2 separate regions of the Homo sapiens genome follow, and region 2 is linked to region 1. The links come from fine-mapping of genetic effects on gene expression. A gene starts in region 1. The other region holds a variant in brackets. All regions are shown on one strand. Distances are between the middles of the regions.

Region 1 (8,328 bases):
TGTTGAATACTGTGGCAGAGGACACATTCCAGGCTTAAGGAATACAGTAAGAAAGTTCATGGAGGTGGGGCAAGTACATGGAGCTTTGGATACCATTCTAAGAAGTTTGGATTTTATAAAAATGGTAGGTCATTGAAAAATTTTGAGGAGGGCAATTCATGATATAATCTTCCTTATGTTTTAAGAGGCTATTTCTGTCAACAGTGTGGAGCTGTGTTGTTTAAAACAGTAGCCACTAGTCACATGTGGTTATGAAATGTGGTAGTGAAAAAATGTGGGTGGTCTGAACGGAAATGTGCTGTAAGTATAAAATACACACTGGATTTTGAAGACTTGGTACAAAAATATGTAAAAATACATCAATAATTTTTATGTTGATTACAAATTGAAACTATTTTTGGTATCTTCAGTTCAATAAAAATTAAAGTTAATTTCATTGGTTCCTTTTTATTTCAATAAAGCTACTAGAAAGTTTAAAATTTCCTGTGTGGCTTACATTACATTTCTATTTGAAGGTGCCAGTGTGGAGGCTGGCTAGGAGAAGGAAAGAACCGAAGACCAGGAGAAGAGAGGAAACTATTGCAAAACCTTAGGCAAGAGATGTTGAGGGTCAGATATAAGGCAGTGACTCTAGGAATGAACAGGAGAGGAGTGGTAAAAAAAAAAAAAAAGGCTTTTTAAAATAGGACGAGACAAGTTATGGGTGTGGGGATCCAAAAGAGGGAGTCAAGCTTGCAAGTCAAGTGTCTAGTCTAGGTGACTAAGAAGATGTTGGGGTGATGGTTTTAGGTTTTGCTGCATATGGGTTTCAAGGTGAACACATAACACGTATGAAGCAATGAGGAAGTCAGGTGTGAAGCTCAAGAGGGGATGTGGTGAAGTTGTAGATCCAGGAGTCAACACCAGGAAATGGTAGTAGAAGGACAGAAATGGGCCTGATCTCCGGGCTCATTCAGACAAGGAGAAAGGGAAAACAGAATGAGAGCCAAGCACGGAGAATTGGGGAAAATGATGGAGGCTGGGGCTCAGAATTTAAGATGTGGATAAAAGAGGACAAGCTTGACTGAGGCTGGCCAGGGAGGACCCAGAAGATCCTAGTACCATGTAGATCAAAGGAGACCTTTTCAGATGGGACAAGTTTACACATGCGGGAAGAAGAGGTTGTTGAGTGAGGCTGTCAGGCGTGTTGGGGTAGGCCTTTGACTGAGTCGCCTAAAAGCAGATGTCAAATTGCAAAAAGTCCAGGAGTGAGGAAGAGGATACTGTGGGTTCAGGTGAGAACTACTGGGAGAAGTTTGGGCACTAGAGAAGGCTAATGGGGACTCGGAAGCAGGGGGTTGGAGGCAGGGGGCTGGGGGTGGGGGCAGGGGCAGCTCAGGGCTGAGGGCAAGGATTTTCAGGCAAAGGGTGAAGGAGGGAGAGGCTGCAGGTGGAAGAAGACTGTAATTGATGGGAGCAAGGCCAAGAAAACGAACTGGTGCAGGAGGCATGTGAAAATGTCACACTTGCGGGAGTCTTTCCTTTTTTGTTTGTTTTCAAACAAAAGCTTTTAAGCTACATCTCCTCAAGCCCATCCCAAGGATCCAACTCTGCCCGGGTTCCATCTGGTAGGGCCTTCTTCAGACAGGAGAGACAGAAGGAGGCCCCTCTCAGAGCGTCTGCCTCTTTTGCACCCGACTGCTCCTGCTCAGAGGCCGCGGGAAGCTGCGGGGACTGGATGGTGCACCTCCCCAGTGCGCATAGGACTTGGGAGACCACACTCCTCCGGGCTGTGTGAGCCTCGGGTCCGCCCAGATCTCTTATACTGTGGCACCTCCGCCCAGAGCCTGAAGAGAAGAGCAGCACCGCGTCCCTCCCGAACCCCGAGCTTCGGCTCGGGCTGCAGCGCCGGGCCTCCTCCGGCAGGGGCGCTGGGAACTCGCGGATGGCCGGCTCTCGTCCAGCGCCCGATCCCGCGCCCACCTGGGCCTGCGGCGCTGGAACTTTTCTTAGGAATACCCGCTACTCCCTGTCTTTGGAAACCCACAGATGCCAGGACCCGCACCATTCTGGGCCGGACGTTGTCGCTGGCTTGGTTCTTTGGCCCAGCCTCCCCCGCTGCTAATTGCCATTTTGGCACCGGGTGGAAAGGCAAGTTCAAGAGGGCGGGGGCTCTCGGGAATCGCTGGATGTCTTCTTCCTTGGCCAGCTTAGATTCTCAGTCGCCTCTTCTGCCTCCTCCATCCCTCTTGGCTCTTACCTGGCGCCCTTTCGCCTCCTCTTCTATCTCCCTCTTCCTTTTGCACCATTCTCTCGCCCCTTTTCTCCTTCATCTTGTCTTTCCTCTCTCCCCTTTTCCCTCTATTTTCTCCTTCATTCCTTCCTCTCACCTTTCTTTCCTCTCCGCGCATTCCCCTCCCTCTCGCTCCACTTTAACCATCTTCTAGAGAGGAGGAACTCTATCTACTCCCGAAGGGGAGGAGCAGGGCTGGAGGCTGTCTCTCTCTCCCTAAGCCTCCTCCCTCCTGCCTCCTCCTTTCTTAATAGCTCCTCCTCTAGCTCCTCTAGTCTCAGACTTTTCAACCCCTAGAATCCCAGGGGCTTCTCGGAGGCGGCGAGCTACACCACATGTCCTGGGGCCTGTAAACCGCAGCTCGAGGTCGTCTGTGGGTTTAGCTCATTTCCCTTCAGCCCACCTGAAGTCTCCTTCTTCCTACGGTCACGAAGGATCTCAGCTGCACCAAGCGCGCAGGCTACACTCCTGCAGTAGCGGATTGGGGACCAGATAAGCCCACGCGGCTCCCGCCTGAGTACCCTCTTAACTGGCGGCCGACACTTTGAAACAATTGAGTCCGTTCAGAAACGGACTGGGGAGAGTGAGGGCACGACCTCAAAATCCTAGGCAGCAAAATGAGGTCTGGATCCTCCCTGGAAGAACAGACATCTCGACTACTCTCTCGCCCCACCTCTGGCCGGGAGGTCGGGGCAAGGAGAATCCCTCAACCGAGAAGATCTGGCAAGTCCCCGATCCCACCGGGGCCTTCCGCCTCTTTTCCCTCATCCCCTAGGAGGCTTTATCAGGTTCTAACCGCTTGTAGTGGGGGCCGTGGGTGCTCGGGGCGCCAAGAGGAGGGGGCTGCCGAGAGCGGCCTGCCTAGTTCTCAGCATTGCCTCTTTGACCACTCGCAGGCTCCTGGAAATGCAAACACAGCCCGTGCGTGATCCGCACGCGACCAAAAGCCGAGCGCACACCTCCCGCCCCCGCCCCACTTGCCATCGCTCACACTAACGTGCACACATGCTCGTGCAAACGCGCACGCACGGAACCGCGCGCCCCCTCACACCCAGCCGCGCTCCCGGCCCGGCTCAGCCAGGTGCCCCCACGCGGCAGCGCCCGGTCTGCCCGCCGGCCCCCTGCGAACCCCTCGCCTCACGCCCGCCTGCCTGCGCGCACGCACGCGCACGCACGCATTCCCCACGCCCCCGCGCGGGGGCGCAGGCCTTGGGTGGCGGGGTTTGGCCGGGAGCCGGCCGGGCCAGGGAGCGGCGAGCAGAGTCCAGGGTGCATCCCGCGCTTGGCTTCCGTGCGCAGCCTCCCCGCGCGGAGGCACCTGGCTCCCTCTCGGCTCTAGAACGCGAACAGTTGGCGTTGAGCACACAACTCCTCCTCCTTCTCCCCCGAGACCCCTGTACCCTCCCCGCGCGCCATCTCCCGCCCCTCATAACAGGCCCGAAGAGTAAACCCCCAAACGCGTCCAGAAGCGGCTCCCAACTCTTCGCCGGGAGCACGTTGGAGGCTGGATTTCGGAGAGACTCGGGATTGGGGTCTATTGCCGGCCCCTCCTGGATCCGGCTTGATTTTCATATTTTAAGAAGATTTTCTTATTACCTTTGATTACTCCTTTTTACCAAATTTCTGGAGGAGCTCAGTGGGGAGGATTGGGGGGAATCTGATTTTAAGAAAGAAAGCACCGAAGGGGCAATTATTAATTTTCCTCGGGTTTGGAATCACCCTCTGGACAAGAGAACGGGCGAGCGGGAGCTAGGAGGGAAGAGTGGAGAGGACCGGCGAGGCGCGCCAGCCGGAGCCACCTCCTTCCCGGCCGCCCCCTCCCCACTCCCCCTACACACACACGCTCGCTCGCTCGCCGGCGCGCGCACACCCCCCGCGCCGGACCCGCACCTCGGCGGGCGCCACACACTCGGCAGCCCGAGCCGCGGTAGCCGCAGCGGGATGGAGGCGGCGCGCACGGAGCGCCCCGCAGGCAGGCCGGGGGCGCCGCTTGTCCGGACGGGGCTCCTACTCTTGTCGACGTGGGTCCTGGCCGGCGCCGAGATCACTTGGGACGCGACAGGCGGTCCCGGACGCCCGGCGGCCCCGGCTTCGCGGCCACCGGCGTTGTCTCCACTCTCGCCGCGGGCAGTGGCCAGCCAGTGGCCGGAGGAGCTGGCGTCGGCGCGGAGAGCCGCCGTGCTGGGGCGCCGGGCCGGACCAGAGCTGCTGCCCCAGCAGGGCGGCGGCAGAGGCGGTGAGATGCAGGTGGAAGCCGGAGGGACATCACCGGCAGGCGAGCGGCGGGGCCGGGGCATCCCAGCTCCTGCCAAGCTTGGCGGCGCGAGGAGGAGTCGCCGGGCGCAGCCCCCAATCACCCAGGAACGCGGGGACGCCTGGGCCACTGCTCCGGCCGATGGTTCCAGAGGAAGCCGTCCCCTTGCTAAGGGTTCCCGGGAGGAGGTGAAGGCGCCGCGGGCTGGGGGGTCGGCGGCTGAAGACCTCCGGCTGCCCAGCACCTCCTTCGCGCTGACCGGGGACTCGGCCCACAACCAAGCCATGGTGCACTGGTCGGGACACAACAGCAGCGTGAGTACCCACCCGGCGGCGGGTCCGCCTGTTTCCTGACACCGAAGGGGAATGGGGGGGTGGGTGGGAGCGAGGGACAGATAGTTGCTCGGGGGTCGAGGCGGGGGACGCCTCGACTTTTCGAGATAACAGGTTTGTCCGATTCCCCCCACGCCCCCAACAGGTTAACGGAGTTTGTTGTTAGACGCTGTGTGTGTTTGTTTACTGGAGACCCTAGGCTTCGGCCGCCGGGAGGGGAGTGGAGGAAGGGGCTTCTTAAAGATGAGTGGGGGAGGGATCTGTGCTCACTTTCTCCAATACTTGGCTTGGAGGGTCAGTTTTCCTGTTTGCGGGGTGCTTGAATTCTTGGATGAGAAAAAGGGCTGACTTGGGGCGGGAGCCGCTGAACAGACCGATTCCTGCGGCTGCCGGGCTCCCCCTACCCCCACCCCACCCCCACCCCCCCTCCCGTCACGCGAAAGGGAACCCGGAAGGCCATTCGGACTCCCAGCCTCCTGCTCGCCTCGGGGTCGCTGCTATCCGCTCCAGGCGCGCAGTCCTCCAGCCCAAGAGGGAGGCTCGGCCAAGTCGGCCCCCAGCCTTGGCCTTCAGGTAACCCCGGTTCCTCCTTCAAAGTCCAGGGAGCGGCCCTGGAAAGCCGTAGCAGAGGCCGTAAAAAAAAGTTTAAAGCGTGAAGCGAAATTCCACACCCATCCAGCGCTCATGCCACACCGCTCGCCCTCACGCACGCACAGGCACACGGAAGTCGCTCAGCAGAAAACTCTCGACTTCACCATTGCGTCCTGCGCCACAAACGGCTCCCTGAGCGGAGTTGGGTGCCTGAGCTTCCTGCACACCTCTCCACCCGCTTTTCCCCGCCACCGGGTTCTCCTGGACAAGGATGTACCGAGAGGTGGCGTCGTTGAGCCCGGTCTGGCCTACTCCGGCATTCCGAACTGGGCGCCCGACTGAGCATCGCGCCTGCCTGGCAGCTGCAGCGGCCCGCAGCGCGTGCCCGGAGGGGCTCCCCCTACCTCGCCGGCACCCAGCGCTGTGCAGCCAAGCAAAGAAAAGGCGGGGGACAGGTTCCCACCATCTCCCCGACTTCCCTCCCTCCCGCGGTCCCTACTAGAGCCAGATTTGGAAAATCCTTTCCTCTTCTCTGGCTCCATGGTTCAGATCAGAACCTGGCGTTGGGTAGGGTGCACGCTCCAGGCGGAGGATGACGGGTGTCTGTACAAGCAGCCTTGGGGAACTGATTTGATAGGAACTCACCCCGCAACTCCCTGCCGTTTTGTATTTCTCTTCATGACCGGTGTTTGACAAAATTTCTCTGGGAAATTTTTGCCTTATTTTAACAGAGCCTGGGATGTCCAGGATTGGGTATCTAATAAGAGGAAAGCGAGGGGTCCGCAGAAGGTAGTACATAAGCAATACCAAAGTGCAGATTTCTTGGTTTCTAATGATGCACAGCGCGGGCAGCCCAGCCTGGGTAGCCCATGCTGGTCTTGAAGGACCAGTGAAGTCCAGCTTCGCAGCAGCGCGATGGCGGGCTTCATCTGCCTGGGATGAAGACCCCCGTAGCCTCGGGCTGACAGCTCTGGCGAGAGGGGTGGACAATGTGTGCCTTTGCAGGGCTGGGTGATTGAAGACTTCCAAGTCCCTTCCAAGAGGACTTGGATATGTGTGTGCTGGGGGGAGATTCTCTGACCTCAGGGTTGATTCTCTGACAGCAGGGGTTGTGAATCCCAACTTCATTTTAGTTTGATAATTAGGGTGTGTGTGTGTGTGTGTGTGTGTGTGTGTGTGTGTTGGGGTTCTTACTTGGTGAGGAGGATGGATGGATGGATAGGATGTGTGGAAGTAAATATATCCTAGGAAGAGGAGGATGCAATGTCTTTACATCTGTGGCTTCCCTACTGCCACATTAGGACAATATAAATTCACCCTCCCTGAAGAGTTTTTCTGTGTCTCTGCTTTTATTTTAAGGATTATTTTTGAGTATTTACAAAGCCTCTGAAGATGGGACTTTAGAGAAAATGCTTCCTGCAAATAGCAGTTAACTGTGCATGGCCTTCTTTGCTCATCTTCAAAGCAGTTGTGCAGCAGAAGAGGTGAGGGGCAGGTCTGGCCCGTGCTCCCTGGGGAAATGACTCTTCAGTCAAATGACGGCCAAAGGGGCTTGGGGACTGGAGCAGTTGGGCTTGGAGACCTTGGTGACAGCAATGAGATTGGACAATGTATGAACAGCCCACAGGGACTTATTGGTTGTGCTCTTGGCCAGCCTTACTGCCCATGCAAGAGCACCACAGGTGGATGTAGGGCCACGCACTGTCCTCTCTCTCCAATCTGGGGAATAACTGCCTCTTTAGCCCCTAGGCTGGACCTGTCTCTTCTGACCACATTTTGTAGGCAATACGAGAGAGAGATCCTTGATTATCAGGTCTGTGAGCCTGTGTAAAGAAGATGGAGAAGCATACTCACATGGCCCTGTCTTTGAGACTTTAAGGAAATCTCCTGGAGAGTCACTGGGAAACCAGTTTCAGCAACATTGACCCAGCTGGTTTTTCTCCTGTCCCCCTTTCCTGATGGCAGGAAAAGAAGGTGTTGTAAATAAAAGCCAGGGTGAAGAGTGATGGGGATGAGGACACTTTGGGAAGATTCCTTCATCATTGGTTTCAAAGTGGAGGGAGATGTCCGTAAAACAGAGAACATGGGGCCTAGCTCCAGGCTCTTATGACGTGGAAAGAGAATTTTATCTTTTATTCTGGCTTCTGGAGTATTAGACATGTCCTTATTCAGGAGGCCACCAGTTTAATTTTTAACACAATGAGGGTTTCCTTGCTCTTCTTCCAAGTGTCTCTGATGCACCTGATTGCTTGATATGAGTTCCCTTTTGGGGAGCGTTTTCAGTAACCCTATGAAATTGAAAATTGAACTCCATTCTGACTGAGTTTACAGTCAGGGATGCAGGGTGGGACATGAAGGAGAAGGGCCTTCAGCCCACCCCATTGGTCCAGTGTGTGCCCCAGGTGGTTGAGGGTGCAGGAGGAGACCCTTGACCAAGGCTTGGGCTGGGTATTTGCCTTGGTCCCAGGACTGAGAAGAGATGGCTTTGGGGACAAAGGAGAAGGAGTGCAACTGGCTTTGGGCAAAGGAATCAGGAGGGCATGGGATCTGGGTACCACCTCTTGACCATGTTGCCTGCCAGGTGCTCTGGCTGGAAAGTGAGTGGACTTGGCCTTGGACCCTTTACTCTGGAGGAGCGATTTGCTATTTTTTCTCTCCAGTTGCCTCCAGCTGGAATCCTGGTGATTAATGGGTTAGAGAGTGTTTCAAAAACACCCAGAGGGAGCCCAGTCCCCGTGGCTTACAGGGAAACAGAAAAACACATTATTCTGTCCTTTTCCTTCAAATGAAAGAAGAAGCCTCCCTGCTTGCTCAGTGAGTTGGCAAATGGCTCTGGAGAGTGGAAAGTTGTGAAGGCACAGTCCACTTCTCCACACCCC
Region 2 (8,328 bases), 45 kb before region 1:
CCAGATGCTAGTTGGCCCTGGTGCCCCATGGTGGAGAAGCAGTGAGTCTGGTCTGGAGCCCAGGTCCCAGATCTCCTTCTCATTGGTTTTAAGTAAAGAGGGAAAAGAGGCTCTGTAGCTGCTTTTCACAAATGTCGTCATTCTCATCAGCAGATGGTAGAGGAGAGAGGCTAATTCAGAACTCCTGTAGCATATAAAACAAAAACCAGCCAAAGGAACCCACAAGGTAAATGATATCATTATAAGGGAAGTAAAGGAAACAGCATCTGTCCCTGCTGTGGCAGGAACCAGAGCTAGGATGCTGGAGAGGTGCCTGCTCCCTGGGCCTTGCAGGGAAGTGGTTCTCACTCAGTGGCAAGGGGAGCTGACGGCTCAGCAAATGCTCTATTAATCCCACCTGAAGAGAAGAACAGTTCGGGAGGGCTGGGCTAGGTCCCGATTTTAAATGTTTAATGCACATCTTGATCTTCCTTTTATTTGTTGTTGGACTGTCTGGACAGACTCTTGTGATTTTCCAGGTTTGTTGATCAATTAAAGTTGGAGAAGACACATGGTTTATCCCACCGCATGCCTTCTGATAGGTCATAGTATGTTGAAACATCCAGGGATAAGTTCATCTGATTGTGGGCTTAGCTGATATAGGGGCTGAGGGTGTGGAAGGTACCTGCCTTTTGCAGCAGCCTGAACAAAGAATTTAAAAACTCCGTTCCTTGCCTTTAGCTCCACTGGGCTCTCAGACCCCACTGGAGAAGAACAGGGAAGAGACAGCTCTTTTCTGCAGCCACCTTCCTAGGCATTCTGTGGTTTTGCTGAAAGAGCAAAGGCTTCTGGAAACAGACCCATGTTCCCGATCCTGGCTCTGTCACTGACGAGCTAAGGCCAGGGCCCTCTCTTATGTCTTAGTCTCCTTGTCTGTAAAATGAGGGCATGTACCCACTTCAGAGGTGTTAGGAGGAGTATATACACATGATGCCTTATGTGGGTACAGTAGTGCCTAGCACAGTATTAGCTGTAGAATAAATGGGAATTCATAACCCCTCATTTCTAGATCAACCCCTGTAAGTCCACCCAAGAACACTGTGTGCCTGAACGAAAGGCAGGTAGGAAGAAGGCAGGGAGGAGAGTGCTTGGGTAAAAAGACACTGTGGTGAAGCATTCCTCTACTGGAGCCCCTTTCTCAGAATCCTAGACTCCTAAAACACCAGGATTGGAAGTTTCTTTGGAGGTCTTTTATTCAACTGTTCACTTCATGCAGGAGATGACTTTCCAAAGTCCTTGCCAAATGTCATCCAATTTTCCCTGGAACATCTTCAAAATAGTGTAGTGGGTGCAGAAATAGTCTCCACCACTTCCTAACCCTAACCCTGGGCTAGTTCCTTAGCCTCTCCCTGTCTCAGTTCCCTTAACTGTAAAGTGAGAGCAATAATAATAGGATTGCTCTAAGGACGAGTTAATACCTGTGCCTAAAGTGGTCTTTGGAAAGCGCAACCTCTCAAAAAATACCAACTTTAAACACGATTATTATTGCTATAACCTTTTCAGGGTTGAGGACAAAGCTATGGCTGGTTACACCCCAAAACCTCCCTGGCACCTCAGGGCAGCTTTGGTCCAGAAAAGGAAGCTCTCTCTGTCTTCATGAAATTTCCACTTAGGCATCCATTGATTATCCTTCTGTTCAGATTTTAATTTTTTTTTGGAGAGCCATCATCTCTTCCCTGGGTCTCTTCCTCTTTCATACTTAGTGCTTTATACCCAAGAGAATATTATTACATCGAACATGAAATTGTGGTTTTGGAGGTCAAAAACTGTCAGGTGTTTCATACGATTCAACCTGCACAGAAGCAGTGTCATCTTTGGGTCCCTGGAGTCACAATCACCACAGTTACTTTGGGTACCTGATTCCGGGTCCCTAAAGAAGATCTGAGAGGAGTGCCTAGAAATCTGCATTTCTAACAAGGTCTCCACTGACACAGTAGAAAGAACACTGGCCTGGGAACAGGAAACCCAAGTTTGAGGACCAGTCCTGTTTCTAGCTGGCCACATAACCTTGGGAAAGTCACTTCAGTCTCTAGGTCTCTGCTCTCTTTTATCACCACAATGGGAATTGCAAGAAAGTGATCTTTAAGATTACCCCCAAGCCTGAACTTATATGGTTTATAAAACACTTACTGGGTGCCTATTAGGAACTGAAGGTCACAAAAGATATAGTTCAAGCCTGCAAGGAGATTACTCTTGTTGGGAAGATTGAAACCAGATGAAGAGGCAGAGCAAAACAATGTGGAAGATAATACAGTACGGTGGCATCAGTGATATCACCGTGGAGAAAACGGTTACCTGCAAATGTGTATTACTTCTATAGAAGCAGTGACGTGAGGCCTCTGTGGGTAGCGTAAGCTTCCTGAGGGAAAGGCCAAATTTGAGCAGCATCTTAGGTTGAGAGAAGGAAGAGTCAGCTTATCTTCTTTTCTCTTTGATAGTCCCAGCACTGGCTCCTAAAATTTCAGCAGTCTTTAAGGTACTACCTATGTTCATTTGCTCATTCATTCATTCATTCATTATCTACCTATTCATGAATATATATTGGGTGCTTACATATGGTGAACAAGATCAAATTAGTCCCTACTCTTAGAGAGCTTAACATTGTAATGAAGGATATGACAAATATTAAACAGATTAAAAAAGTGGTGTAATGCTATGAAGAGAATTAAAGCAGGATGAAATAGTAACTGTGGTTTCTTCGGTTTGGGGGTAATGGTCAGAAAAGATCTCTCAGAAGACTGAGAAGCTATGACCTGAAAGTCAAGAAGAAGCCAAACAGGGCACGATCAGGGAAAGAATGCTTCAGGTAGAGGAAACTGCCAGTGCTGAGGATCTACAGTGGGAATTTACAGGAATGAAAGAAACGCAGGAGAAGAGGGGAGAAAGGCAGGAGAGGGTACAAAATATATCTGGTACAGTAGGCAGGGGTAAGATTGTGAAACGCTTCATAAACCAGAATAAGGATTTTATATTTTATGCTTAATTCTACATGCAATAGGGAACCGTTGAATGGCTCTAAGAAGAGGAACAACATGATTTGACTTAGGTTTTTGAGGGATCTCTCCAGCTACAGATTGAAGAATGATTGTAAAGAGGGTGAGTGGAAACAGGAGGCCTGGTGAGTATGTTATTGCAGAGTGGTCCGATGAGAGACAGTGATGGAGCAGACTAGTGAGGGAGCAGGTGGGGAACAGGGCACAGGTGTTTAATCACTCAGGGTAGAGAGGGTAGGGGAGAGGCACACAAGGAGATAAGGGAAGGGCTCAATATTTAAAGCACAGTTTCTTAAACAGTTTTTCCTGCTCTAGTGGGAAAATCATGCACTCGCAAGAACAGTGTATCAATTCAATGGTGATTCTAAATTGGGGTTCCCCCGGAAGATGTGACAGCATATTGTTGCTGGAGGAATGTAGGGGGCATGCCCTACGCCTGCACCCCAGCAATTGCCACATGGTTTATGTTGTGACTGTGACACAAGTCCTAATTGTGAGAGAGGACCCAGGGT[A/ACTG]CTGCTCAAAATGATAGGAAACATTGACAAATCCTAGCCCAGTTTGACTTTTTGAAAGCTTGTTCCTTGCTATTTTGACCCCCAAGTACATTTTGATTTCAGGTCTGTAAATAAAATTATTTGTATTAGAATAATAAAAACATTAATTTTTTTGTTAAGATGATTTTATAGGGTAAATTCTAATAAGTAAATTTAATTCTTTGATCATTTTTTATCTGATGCACCTAAAAATTTCCAGCCGAAGCTGGACCTGGTGGCTCATGCCTGCAATCTCAGCACTTTGGGAGGCTGAGATGGGAGAATCTCTTGAGGCCAGGAGTTTGAGACCAGCCTGGGAAACATATTGAGACCCCATGACTACAAAAAGTTTTAAAAATTAGCTGGGTACAGTGGCATTAGCCTGTAGTCCCAGCTACTCAGAAGGCTGAGGTAGAAGGATTGCTTGAGCCCAGAAGTTGGAGGCTACAGTGAGCTATGATTGTGCCACTGCACTCCAGCTTGGGTGACAGAACAAGACCCTGTCTCTTAAAAAAAATTCAATCATTTTGGTTTTCATTTCCATTTTCATTATGAGAAATTCTATTCCATATAACCAGTTTTTTTTGGAAGAGTTTGAAAGGATTAGTTCCTCAAATTTTTGGTAGAATTCAGTCATCACTCAGGTTGTTTTTTTTTCCATAATGATGTTTTTAAGTTCAATTTCCTTAGGCTTGATTTCGCAAATTTAAATTTTTTTCAGACATATGATTCTTTACTAAGTTTTAATGATAATGAATATGTTTCAGGTTCATCCTCTCAACTCTCTATTTGTGTCCAGTCAAAATTCGCAATGCCAACACAATAGTTTCTAGTCCCATGATCCACTGAGAAAAACATGGATTCTTTAAAAGGTAAAATACATATTCAACATGATGCTGCACTCTCTTCCCCTCCCCCCTCAAAGGCTGACACTACTAATTCACCGCTGGCACTTCCTATGGATTGAGAGACAGCTGTAGCTGATATTGAGCTTAGAATCAGATGGTTCAGACATCGAACCATTTCTGCATCAGCTGGTAAACAGCTGTGGCCTGGAGGGCTCCTTTTGGACCTCCCTATGCTGACCCAGCAACTAAAGAGTTAACACCCAAACCAGCAGGGCACCTGGAAGATCCCAGAAGGGTTGGGGTGAGGGTGAGGGTTGGGCAGGGCAGGGTTGGCCAGCACTGCAGCTGGCCATTTGTGCTGATTGGTGGATTGTTAACCTTTTTGAATATCACTCTGGGGAACAGTTTAAGAATCTTTCTCAGTACAAGGCTCCAGGAAGACATTACTGAATTGATCAAAGTTGGTACTTTAGATGAAACCTATTTATCACCCCTGGATTAAGGTCTTATCTCCCTTAGGGATATTTGGTTATAAACAGTGTGCTCTGAAGGTTAAAGAACCTCCAGGGCTCCAGGAACTGGACTTCTACTGCTGTACCTTCAAGTACCCTCCTTGGACAGAACTGGGGGCTGAGGCCAAATCACAGTTCCTGATCTGGATTGGCCTGACCTTTGAACATGAGATAGGGCAATCAATGGGGACGGGCACTAAAATGAACTCTAAGACCCTCCCCTCATTGCCAAGGCTTCTAGCACAACAAGAATGGCTTGTTCAGGCCTGCATTCAGTCTTGACATTCTGCAGTGTAGAAGCCAGGGGCATCAGTGGTTTCTCTGCTACATGTTTTCATTTTTGTAGAAATCACGTTGCCTATAGATAGCAAAACTAGCTTGGTATAAAAACAGCATGACTTGTGCCCTTAAAAATATTAAGTAAAAATAATTTGCCAGCCAGGTGCTGTGGCTCACTCCTGTAATCCCAGCATTTTTGGAGACCGAGGTGGGTGGATCACCTGAAGTCAGGAGTTTGAGACCAGCCTGGCCAACCATGGCGAAATCCTGTCTCTATTTAAAATACAAAAAAATTAGCCAAGTGTGGTGGTGCATGCCTGTGATCCCAGCTACTTGGGAGGCTGAAGGAGGGGTACTGCTTGAACCTGGGAGGTGGAGGTTGCAGTGAGCTGAGATTGCGCCATTGCACTCCAGCCGGGGCAACAAGAGTGAAACTCTATCTAAAAAAAAAAAAAAATTGTCATAGTAATATATATTTTTCCTTTTTAGTAAGTGGCAAAGTACCCCTGATTTTGAAACATGTATGGTCGTGATATCAAGAGTGACAACCTGGGCAAAAGAGAGCCATTGCAAAGAAGAAAGGCCTTTAGGGAAATGGAGCAGAAAGAGGAAGCAGTAAGATATTGTCTTTAGCGCCTACAACCATATATGGATTGGGTGGTCCAGAAGGAAGAATGTGGCAACCTCCCACAGGGGCTGTCGGCACTGCTGTGGTGGGATGGGCAGGAATGATTTCTCCCTCCAGGATCACTCTGTTTCCAATGAAAGACTTTTAGAGTTGTCACAGCTCTTATTTTTTCAGTGAGGTGATTGAAGTCCAGAGGAATTAACTGACTTGTGCAAGACCACACAGCTAGCCCAAGATCCATTCAGAGCCAAGAAAGAGAGTCCTGACGGCACATTCTAGTTACCTTAGACAACATGTCAGTGCAATTCATCAAGTTCTTCATAATCCAGAAGTATCATTAGAAACACTAACCATATAACACTGTAATATGGGGCTGGGTGAGGATATAGATCTATTTGCTTCTACGCTAAGTGGCCTCATTTAGTGCTATTTTGGGGTCTGCTCTTGGTACTTCCTAGGCTGTCTTTATCATCGTCAATCACGTACTGTGCCTGCTTCAAACAAATCTTCCAACATCTGCTTCCCCACACACTGTTGAAAGTACATTAGTAATTTAATTTTATGTAACACTTCTTCCAACTCTCTAGAAATCTTGCCAATGCAGTCTTGCCCGCTCCCCCTGAGGAGCCACTTTCTCTTCTGCATTCTCTGGGCCTTCTGTATCCCTTGTGGACAATGCATTGTTCTAGAAGGAAGCAACCTACTGTTTTGGGAAGAACAGGGCCCAAATCCTGTTACTAACAGTGTGGCTGTGGACAAAGTCCTTTGCCTCTTTGAGCCTGAGTTAACTCTCTGCACTAACATGTGTCTTTCAGGGAGAGTGGGAGGCTTAAATGCCTGCATAGAGCTGTCTTTTAACAAATGCTAGTTTCCTCTCTTGTTTAGAGGCATGCTCCACCTTCTGCCTTACATTGTGGTTGGTTCCAGGCATGTTTGTGCTCTTCAGTAGGATCCAGAATCCGTAGTTGGTGACTATGTTTCCTAATTCGGGATCCCCCTGTGCCAGGCATAGGCTTGCTGCAGGCTCTCCATTACTGCTTGTAGAGTAGATAATATTGTAAGTCATTAAGTTCTGGTCTGAGGCAGGTGTGTAATTGCCATGTACTCTCTTGCAGGCTCAAGAGTACAGGTCCTCAGAGGCCTTTTTTCTTCTGTGTCCTGGGAGGCATAGTGACTGCAGCTCTGACCTCCATACAGGTGGATTTTTTTTTTTTTTTGAGACAGAGTCTCACTTTGTTGCTCAGGCTGGAGTGCAGTGGCGTGATCTCTGCTCACTGCAACCTCCACCTCCCAGGTTCATGCGATTCTCCTGCCTCAGCCTACTGAGTAGCTGGGATTACAGGCGCACACCAGCACGCCTGGCTAATTTGTGTGTTTTTAGTAGAGACAGGGTTTCACCATGTTGGCCAGTCTGGTCTCAAATTCCTGACCTCGTGATCCTCTTGCCTCAGCCTCCCAAAGCGCTGGGATTACAGGCATAAGCCACCACGCCTGGCCCGACATTTCTATAAATGATGATCCCTCTTTGGAAAGTAGCCTCTTTGCAGAAGGCCCTTCTCCCAAGAGGGAATAAGATTCAGGGAACCAACTTCAAAGCCCATGCAAAATGAGCCAGTCTGCTCCATCCCTGTGGGCACAGTCAATGGGGCAAGAGCCCCCAGGGCTGCATCTCCTTCCTTCCCAGGGAAGCCATGATTGTGGGTGACTTTCAGTGTTTCTTAGCATTTGGGCAGTCTCTTGATTCCTTTGCAGAAGGTTTTGTTGTCAGATCAAGAGCACCTGCTCCCTTTATGCCCAATTGGTTGTATAGATTCAGAGGGAGCAGGTGGAGGGAGAAAGAAGTGGTGAGAAAAGCCTTGAGAATGGAGATAAGGGTGCTCCCAGAGAGAGGGAAAAGTGGATAAAAGCCTGGCTGTGCTCCCTGCACCTAAGTTCCTTAAGATTCTTCCCTTCCTGACAACAAATCTTCTTTCTCCTTGAATCAATTTGGGTGGGCCTTGGTACCTGTCAATAAATAGGCTCCAACTAACTTCTGTTTTAAATCCACTGGGGTCACATGGTAAGTTTTTTGAGAGTGGAACCACATTTCTGTTCTTATCTTCCCCTGAACACACAAGTAATGCTGGAGGCATAGTATTTGTTGGTTTAATGAATAACGTGCCTGAGTAGTACCACGCTGGTTGCAAGGAGAGTGTCTGCCCCCAGAAATTTCAAGAATTGCCAGAATATTGGAAGCAGGAAGCCTGGTCCTTTAAATATGTCATAAGCCCCATTTATGGTGTGTTCTGCAGCAGTTTTGCAAACACAGGAAAATCCATTTGAATCCAATATTCTCAGATTGCCCTGTTCATTTGGTAGTTAGAATATATTATCCTCATAGACTATTTGAGCTCCTGGTTTTCAGCCCTCTCTGAACCTCCTCCAGATCACTGCTAGTGAGACATTTGGGTAAAGTTGTAAATGCATTTGCTGTATCTTTTAGCCTAAGTATTTCCAGCA

Evidence for each region. PIP is the estimated chance that this variant, and not a neighbour inherited with it, causes the effect.
Region 2: its variant is fine-mapped to the expression of SORCS3 in whole blood (INTERVAL, PIP 0.93).

The regions. Positions count from the first base shown.
Region 1 is chr10:104,637,115-104,645,442 of GRCh38, forward strand. It overlaps SORCS3 (sortilin related VPS10 domain containing receptor 3), which reads left to right and starts at 4,176. Exons shown (of 27, transcript NM_014978.3): 1 at 4,176-4,840. The coding sequence starts at 4,214.
Region 2 is chr10:104,591,679-104,600,006 of GRCh38, forward strand. LOC105378464 (a long non-coding RNA gene) reads left to right here. Exons shown (of 8, transcript XR_007062285.1): 3 at 3,038-3,157; 4 at 4,330-4,434; 5 at 5,691-5,816. Among named protein-coding and RNA genes, the nearest start is that of SORCS3, 45 kb to the right of the region's middle. The variant A/ACTG (reference allele first, on the strand shown) is at 3,545.